Linked DNA regions of Homo sapiens: region 2 is linked to region 1. Evidence: fine-mapped expression QTL. Tissue or cell type: uterus. Region 1 holds a variant in brackets; the other region holds the start of a gene. All regions are shown on one strand. Distances are between the middles of the regions.

Region 1 (4,401 bases):
GTCCACATTCCCACTCTGAACTCCCGCAATCCTAGCCATGCGACAGCACCTCACCCTCACGTGCCCTGATACTAACACTGGGAGCTGTCTGGAGACTGTATGACCACACTGTTTCAGAGAGGGAGCTCACACCGGGGTCCAACCCACGCCCAAACCTAAGCGGCTACAGCAACGCACCATTTTGAGCCCCCAGCCCCCAGCAGACTGCATCCTACACTGGAATCCAACAGCCCCTGCAGTTCCATATTTGTGGCACCCCAGTGATATCCCCCTTGCTGGCTGCTGCCCTGGGGCCAAAGCATGAGCCACAGACAATGATCCCACTGGCCCCACAACCACCACCGCTGAACCATAGCACAGCCTCCACGCACTTTCACCCAACTGGAGGACAAAATGCAAATCAAAACCACAATGTGTATCATCTTATGCCAGTTACAACAGCTAAGATTAAAGAGACAAAAAATAACAGATGCTGGTGATGATGTGGGAAAAAAGGGAACTCTTTTTTTTTTTTTTTTTTTGAGATGGGATTATAGGCACGCACCACCACGCCCAGCTAATTTTTGTATTTTTAGTAGAGACAGGGTTTCACCACGTTGGCTGGGCTGGTCTCGAACTCCTGGCCTCAGGTGATCTGCCCACCTCGGCCTCTCAAAGTGCTGAGATTACAGGCGTGAGTCACCAAGCCCAGCTGAAAAGGGAACTCTTATACACTGTTGGTGGAAATGTGAGTACAGCCACTATCAAAAACAATATGGAGATTTCTTCAAAAACTAAAAACAGAGCTACCATGTGATCCAGCAATCCCACTGCTGGGTATCTTTCCAGAAGAAGGGGACTCAGTATGTCAAAGCAACACCTGCACCCCCGTCTTTACTGCAGCACTATTCATAATAGCCAAGATACGGAATCAATCTAAGTGTCCAATGGATGACCAGATAAAGCAAATATGACACATATACACAATATAATACTATTCGGCCATTAAAAAGGATGAAATCCTGTCATTTGCAGCAACATGGATGGAACTGGAGGTTATTAGGTTAAGTGAAATAAGCCAGGCACAGAAAGACAAATATTACACGTTCTCACTTATATGTGGGAACTAAAAGAATTGATCTCATGGAGGTAGAGAGTAGAATGGTAGCTACCAGAGGCTGGGAAGGTTGGGGGTGGGGTGGATAAAGAGAGGCTGTTTAATTGGTACAAACACAGAATGAGGTAGAAAGAATAAATTCTAGTGTTTGATAGCAGAGTAGGGTGACTACAGTTAGCAACAAATTATTGTATATTTTGAAATAGCTAGACTAGAAGACTTGAAATGTACCTAACACATAGAATAGTAGAGGTGATAGATACCTTAAATCAGCAGTCTCCAACCCTTTTGGCACCAGGGACTGGTTTCATGGAAGACAATTTTTCCACAGACTGGGGTGGTGGGGGATTGGTTTTAAGATAAAACTGTTCCACCTTAGATCATCAGGCATTAGATAGATACTCACAAGGAGCAAGTAATCTAAATCCTTTGCATGTGCATGACAATAGGGTTCATGCTCCTATGAGAATCTAATGCTGCTGCTGAGCTGACTGGAGGCAGAGCTCAGGTGGTAATGCTGGCTCACCCGCCACTCGCCTCCTGCTGTGCAGCCTGGTTCCTAACAGGCCACGGACAGGCCCTGACGTTGGGAACCCGTCCCTTAAATGCCATGACTCCCTGACTTGATCATTATACATTCTATGCATGTAACAAAATATTACAGGTTCCTCATAAATGGGTACAAATATTATGTATCGATAAAAAGAAAAGAAGGAGGATGGGGACTGCAGAACAATGTTTTCTGGGGGAAAAATAAAGTTGATACATTATGTAATATGTTAGGTCATTTATTTAAACTTCATTTATTTATTTAAACTTCATTTATTTATTTAAAGTTTATGGCCAGGCATGGTGGCTCAGCCTGTAATCCCAGCACTTTGGGAGGCCAAGGCAGACAGATCCCTTGAGACTAGGAGTTCAAAGCCAGCCTGGTCAACATGGTGAAACCCTGTCTCTACAAAAGATACAAAAATTAGCCAGGTGTGGTGGCACACTCCTGCAATCCCAGCCTCTCTCGAGGCTGAGGTGGGAGGATCACCTGAACCCATGGAGGTCAAGGCTGCAGTGAGCCATGATCACGCCACTGTACTCTAGCCTGGGAAACAAACTGAGACCCTGTCTCAAAAAATAAATAAATAAATAAAATGTATGTACTTATTTATTACATATATGTGTGTGTCTCATATATCTAATGGAACACTGTTAAAATAAAATTAATGATAAGTAATTAATAAAAACTAACAAAAATTTAAGAGAGAATTATTAGTTTTAGACAAATAAAATATACAAAAAAATGTAATTGCTGGTTCTATGTTGAGCAGTATTTTCAAAGTCTTAGTAATATGAACAATGCTGGTGAAATGACAAGGTTTAAAATTTGTTTAAAATAATTGAGAGGAGGAAGAGACAGTGTGGGAATAATTAAACACGAATGAGAAGACTGATGGTTGTTGAAGCTAGATGAAGACTAAATGG[G/T]CATTCTTTATATCATTCTGTCTGTTTTGTTTGCATAAGAAAATTGCCAAAATGAAAAGTTTCAATTATAACATCTCATTGTAAACAATGATTTCTGATGTAATAAAATTGGACTACATTAGATAGATTTGGGGGGAGCAGAAAAATGTATCTGGGGAAATTCATTAAAAACAAACCAAATAATCACTTGCCTCAAGAAATATAAGTATGACAATTACAGCTAGATAGAAGGAATAAGTTCTCATGTTCTAAACCACTCTAAGATGACTATAGTTAACAATAATATATTATACAGTTTCAAATAGCCAGAAGGATATTGAACATTCCCAATACAAAAAAAAAAGATAGATGTTTGAGATGATAGATTTGCTAACTACCCTGGTCACATTATATGTATCAAAACATCACTACGTATCCCATGAATATGTAAAATTATTTGTCAATTTAAAAAGAGAAAATTAAATTTAAAAAAAGAAAAAATATATATATGTTCATATTAAATAGAAATACAAATGTAAATTCAGAAGACACTATAGGAAAGACAGGTGGGAAGAAGAAGGGACAAGAACTTCCTTTTTGTGAAAGAAATGTTAATACTATTTAATTTTTAAAATTTTTATCAAATTATTACTTTGATAAATATTAACAAAATTCTTCATCCTCAAGATATTTTTTATGATGACATATAATTTGAATATATTTTCCCTTTATCTATGGAATGAAATGAAAAGACTTCAGAGCTGACATTTGAATTTTAAAAAGCATTAATTGGAAATGGGAATTCAGTCTTGTTCCATTGCAAGGTTTTGCTATATGCACTGCCCTCTAGTGTCACTTTGTGGGACAAGCATCTTGAATTTCATAAACTAGAAATTTAACTAAATCTTCAAATGCCATATTCTCTCTTCTTGGATCTTCCATCTCCTCCATGTGGTCATATCCTATTAGGATATGACCTACGACCCAGAATTCAGGGCAAGGCTACTAGTTTTATAGGATGGTTCGTTATGGATTCAAAAGGTTTTAATGGGAGGGCCTTGGAACCTGATCTTGATTAATGGGGAAATGTGTCTGAGTTCTAAACAAATGTTTATTCGCTTGAGGGAAAGAACCCATCTGTTTGTCTTTGACTCCTTGAGAGTACTGTACATGCCTCGAATCAAATGCAGTGCTGGACAGAAGTCTGATATGCGGTGGATGCTCAAAGGAACATTAAGTGAGTCTGGCAATGACTGTTCAGAACTCGTTTTGTTATTTGGAGGCAGTCTGAAGTATTCTTTTAAGCATGAAATGCCATAAAGGAGAGTGATCATTGTCATCATTAATAACTGCCCAAGCCAAATCTCTAATGAATATGGACAAATCAACACAGATTATAGAATCTAAATCATTTCTGGAGGGGAAAATGGAGAGATTAATGGGTGAAAGGCCCACCTTGATGCCTTCCATCACCTCCTAAAAGGAAAAAAGAACAAACTTTTTAGGCCAACTTCCCTAGATCAAATGGTTTTTGTCTAAAAAAAAAACAACCACACAGAAAACAAAAACAAAAACAAAAACAAAAACAAAAAAAAACCCTGCTTTTCCCTCACAGTCTTTTCTTTGCAATGAGAAGAATGTATTTTCTTCCTCAGCATTATTTACTTTTTGATAAAATCACATATTTCTCCCTGCCAAAATTCTGACACATGTTCAGTTCCAAGATGTTCTTCCTTTGCTACTAGATAACAGAGGAAGTGCGCCTTGTTTCCCCTTGACTTCAACAGTTTTCGGTTTCCAGGCCTGGCGCGGTGGTTCCCGCCTGTAATCCCAGCACTTTGGGAGGCCAA
Region 2 (4,401 bases), 53 kb after region 1:
GAGTAAAAACTCTCCATAAAAGATTAATCAAGAGACAGTAATCCAGACAACTTGAGTCATCACAAAGTAAGATTTCCGGAAATTTTTTTTTTAATTGTATATAACAGGTTTAGGATTACTTTATCTTCATTTTCCTTGTTGGTAATTCTGTATAATCTTTTGAAAACTCCAATTTCATTATCAAAGAAAAAAATCTGAAAGACATTTTAAGATAAACTTAACTTCTAAAAATGTTCAAAAACCCATGTTCAGAAACATTGTAACAAATGTTCACTGTAGAATGCTGGTAATTGAATTAGATATTGAATATCTACCCGAAATCAACTCTTTACATTCCGAGGTTGGTTTTTTTGTTTTTGTTTTTTGTTGTTGTTGTTGTTGTTGTTTTGTTTTGAGACAGTCTCGCTCTGTTGCCCAGGCTGGAGTGCAGTGGCGCAGTCTTGGCTCACCGCAACTTCCTCCTTCCAGGTTCAAGTGATTGTTCTGTCTCAGCCTCCCGAGTAGCTGGAACTACACGCACACGCCACCACATGAGCCCAGCTAATTTTTGTATTTTTAGTAGAGACGGGGTTTCACCATATTGGCCAGGCTGGTCTAGAACTCCTGATCTCGTGATCCGCCCGCCTCGGTCTCTCAAAGTTCTGGGATTACAGGCATGAGCCACCGCGCCCGGCCGGCCTACATTCCAAAGTTTAAAGCATTTAAATATGGGTTGGAAATATCTGCCTACTGAACAACATTTGTACATATATAAATAACATTGTTTTTCCAAACTATATTCTTTTTACTTCCTGAATTTAACCATAGTTTGAAATTTTTCAAAAATATTGTTTGTAAGATAAAACTTGAAAACTTACTTTTTTTTCTTATTGTAGAAGACAAGCAATAACAACACAGTAAAAGTTGAGATCGTGTTTTTAATTCACTGTTACACACTGCCATCTAGCAGGAAGCGAGCAAGAGTTATTACAGCAATTTCGAAATTGGAAGACCTGAATGATCACCTGAGGCTACCCAATCGCCTCTGGCTTCTCCTTACTCAGAAGAAAGTTTTAAAACGGAGACTACGGTGCTGCTAGATTGGAGGCAGTGAAACTTCAGCGTTCAAAGAGCTGAGCTGCTTATTCAATGCGAGAAAGGCCTCCATTTGAGACTACGGTAGACCAGGGAGAAACCCTGCCCTAGTTGTAGTGTGACGTTACTAACAAGCCCAAGATTGGTCGTGAGTTTCCTGGGTGTCTCATTGGAAAGAAAGGTGTACGAAGGGAATAAAGTCCTGAAAGCCAACTTGCCTTATTCAAAACTGTGGCCAGCCAGAGCTGGATGCATTCCACAAACTAAATTAACAATCCAAGTCATTTCATGCACAAAACACTCTAACCAACTATTATTGCAGGGAGCTGCAGCAGGGAGCAGGGGGCAGGCTGTTGGGGCCGTGGTGTTAGAAAAAGTCATTCTGTGTGACATTTGCTTTATTTTAAAGAATCATTAAAAGATTCCCAGAAAATGTCATAAAATCACAGAAAAATTACTTCTATAGTTTACAAAAAATGAGCTCTGTTCTGAGGGTACTAATCGGGTGCAAAATACCTAACACATGGCTTGCAAATGGGATAACCCAGGCCTGCGGTTGCCGGTGCTTTCCTGGGGCATTTTCTCCATTAAATACGCCGTATTCTCTGCAACTAGAAAGTCACAGTTGCTACGACTTCAACACAACATTCCTGCAACAAGTGATTCTCTGGGAAGACCTGGGGGAGAACAAGGCAATTCGCGCCCCGCAAAGGCAGATTAGGTTCTGGAATGGACGGCCGCGGACCTGGGGAGGAGGCCGATCGGGGCAGGCGGGGAGGCGCCGGGACCCCGCGCTCCTTCTCCGGGCTCCAGCAGAGGCTCCGGCCCGGCACCCGCCTCCCGCCTGGTGGATCAGGCTTCAATCTCAGGCAGTGGCTCTGCCTTTGCGCCACTAAGTCTCCAAAACAGACTTGGATTATTTTGCACACACCATTCCGTCTCTTACACGCACCCCCTGCTCGGTACAGAGAGGGAGTTTCCTTAGGCTGTGACTCCCGGAGGTAGTGTCCCAGCTTCCGTGGGACCAGAAAAGCGTCTTTCCGTGTCTCAGCATCAAGCCCCTACCCCCACCAAGAGACCACAGAGGCCAGATGTGATGCGGCGCTCGCACTCACCTCGCGCGGAGCAGGGTTCGTCCCGCAGAATGCAGCGCAGCTTCCTTTCTCCCTATGAGCCCAAGCCTGGGCGCCGGGAAGACCCGAAGAGCCGATCAGGAGCGGAAGAGGCGGCCGCGCGGGCGAGCTCGGGGCGCGTTCCGGCGGAGCCAGCCTGGATCCGGGTTTTCACTCGTGCCCTGTTCACAAGCTCTTGGGACCCGGGTTCTAAGAACACCGGGCCGCCCCCTGCTGATGATCTTGGTTCGCAGTCCGCCTGAGGCCACGGCCCTATGGAAAGTTCTCGGGAAGGCTGCGGGGGCCCTCTTCTTTAAGACAGGGGAAACTCTCCGCTTCTCCAACTGGACTAGGACTGGAGCGCATGCAGTCACCTATTCAGGCCAGGCGTGGCAGCGGCTCACACCTGTAATCCCAGCACTTTGGGAGGCCAAGGCGGGCAGATCGCTTGAGCCCAGGAGTTCGATACCAGCCTGAGCAACATAGCGGGACCCTGTCTCTACAAAAAATGCAAAAATTAGCAGAGTGTGGTGGCCCATGCCTGTAGTCCCACCTACTGGGAGGCTGAGGTGGGAGGATCTCTTGAGTCCAGGAGGTAAAGGCTGCAGTTAACCGAGATCAAGCCACTGCACTCCAGCCTGGGCAACAGAGCAAGACTGTCTACAAAAATAAATAAAATAAATTTAAAAAAAAAGGTCAAAGTCATTTATTCAAGAAAAGATTGTACTGGTTGCTATGGTGTGAATGTTTGTACCCTGCCCCAAATTCATATGTGAATTTCGTGCCTTTATAGTCTATATAAATTTACAAATGTACTGTGTCTTTATGAAAGAGACCAGAGCAAGCTTCTGCCATGTGAGGACACATAGAGGGTCTCTTGTATGAGGCACAGACGCTAACAGATGAGGAATCTGCCAGCGTGTTTGTTGATCTTGGACTTCCCATCATCCAGACTGGGAGCAGTGGAGTTCCGTTGTTCATGCATTACCCAAACTAAGGTGTGTTGTGATAGTAGCCCAAACGGACTAGACACTGGTAAAGGAAAGCTAATTGACTTCAAGCTACTGAGTTCCAAATCCAAAAACTCAAATAAAATTATTGTGCCCTAGTCTAGGAGGTAATAAACCTAAGGAGGTAATTCAGCATTTTGGGAGGGGTGGGTCTAGGGCAAGGCAAATGAGGTACTTAGGGCTCAAAATCTGAGGAGGTGCTGACCCTGGGTGTCCTGCAGTGCTGGGTGCACTGCAGAAGCCTGAGAGCGATTTGCTGTTTCGGGCCTGCCTCCCTCTGGTCCCGACCCTGCGGAGCTCTGGTGCCAAGAAACTCAACTTTTCTATGAAAACAGGTTGATAATAATGGTGTCCACATCTAAAAAACATCAAACACACAGAAAAGATTGATAAATTAGATATGATTAAAAGTAAGAAACTCTATTCATCAAAAGACACCATTAAGAAAATAAGAAATGGGTGCAGTGGCTCACACCTGTAATCTCAGCACTTTGGTAGGCTGAGACGAGAGGATCACTTGAGCCCAGGAGTTGGAGACCAGCCTGGACAACATAGGGAGACCCCGTCTCTACGAAAAATTTTTAAAAATTAGCCAGGTGTGGTGGTGCACGCCTATGGTTTCCGCCACTCAGGAGGCTGAGGTGGGAGGATTGCTTGACCCTGGGAGGTCAAGGCTGCAGTGAGTCAGGATTGTGTCACTGCACTCCAGCCTGGGCAACAGGATTAGATCCTGTCTCAAGAAAGAAAAAGAATGAAAACTGATCTACGGAATGAGAGAAGGTATTTTTGATATATTGTATCTAACAATGAATTTAGAATATAACAAGAACTCCTAAAAGCAATAAGAAAGAAAAGCAATCAATAAGTACAGCACTTCACCGAAGACGAATCCAAATAGCCAGGCAGTATGTGAAAAAGATGCTTAATGTTTTTAGTCATTAAAGAAATGCAAATGAACACGATGATGATATATACTACACATCCACTAAAATGGCTACAGATTTTAAAACTGACAAGACAACACAAGGACAAAGCCGTGAAGCACATAGAACTGTTATGCACTATTGTTGGGGGTGCAGTTGTGACAGCCACTTTGGAAAATCATCTGTTCATATTTACTAGAGCTGAATATACACGTTGTGACCCAGAAATTCCTAGGTATAGGCCTAATACACATACCTATATATAAACATCAAAAGGCATGT

Alleles and levels. Positions count from the first base shown, and alleles are read on the strand shown. Sizes are in standard deviations (SD) of each study's normalised expression.
As copies of T replace G in region 1, the expression in uterus of the gene that starts at base 2,272 in region 2 goes down (moderate effect, 0.69 SD a copy in GTEx).

What was found.
Region 2: it holds the start of POFUT3, and the variant in region 1 is fine-mapped to the expression of POFUT3 in uterus (GTEx, PIP 0.96).

Annotation. Positions count from the first base shown.
Region 1 is chr8:33,417,910-33,422,310 of GRCh38, forward strand. All of the region lies in intron 3 of POFUT3 (protein O-fucosyltransferase 3), which reads right to left. Among named protein-coding and RNA genes, the nearest start is that of POFUT3, 53 kb to the right of the region's middle. The variant G/T (reference allele first, on the strand shown) is at 2,573.
Region 2 is chr8:33,470,875-33,475,275 of GRCh38, forward strand. It overlaps POFUT3 (protein O-fucosyltransferase 3), which reads right to left and starts at 2,272. Exons shown (of 5, transcript NM_032664.3): 1 at 2,190-2,272. RefSeq lists silencers at 492-541, 1,772-2,011, 2,302-2,381 and an enhancer at 1,242-1,451.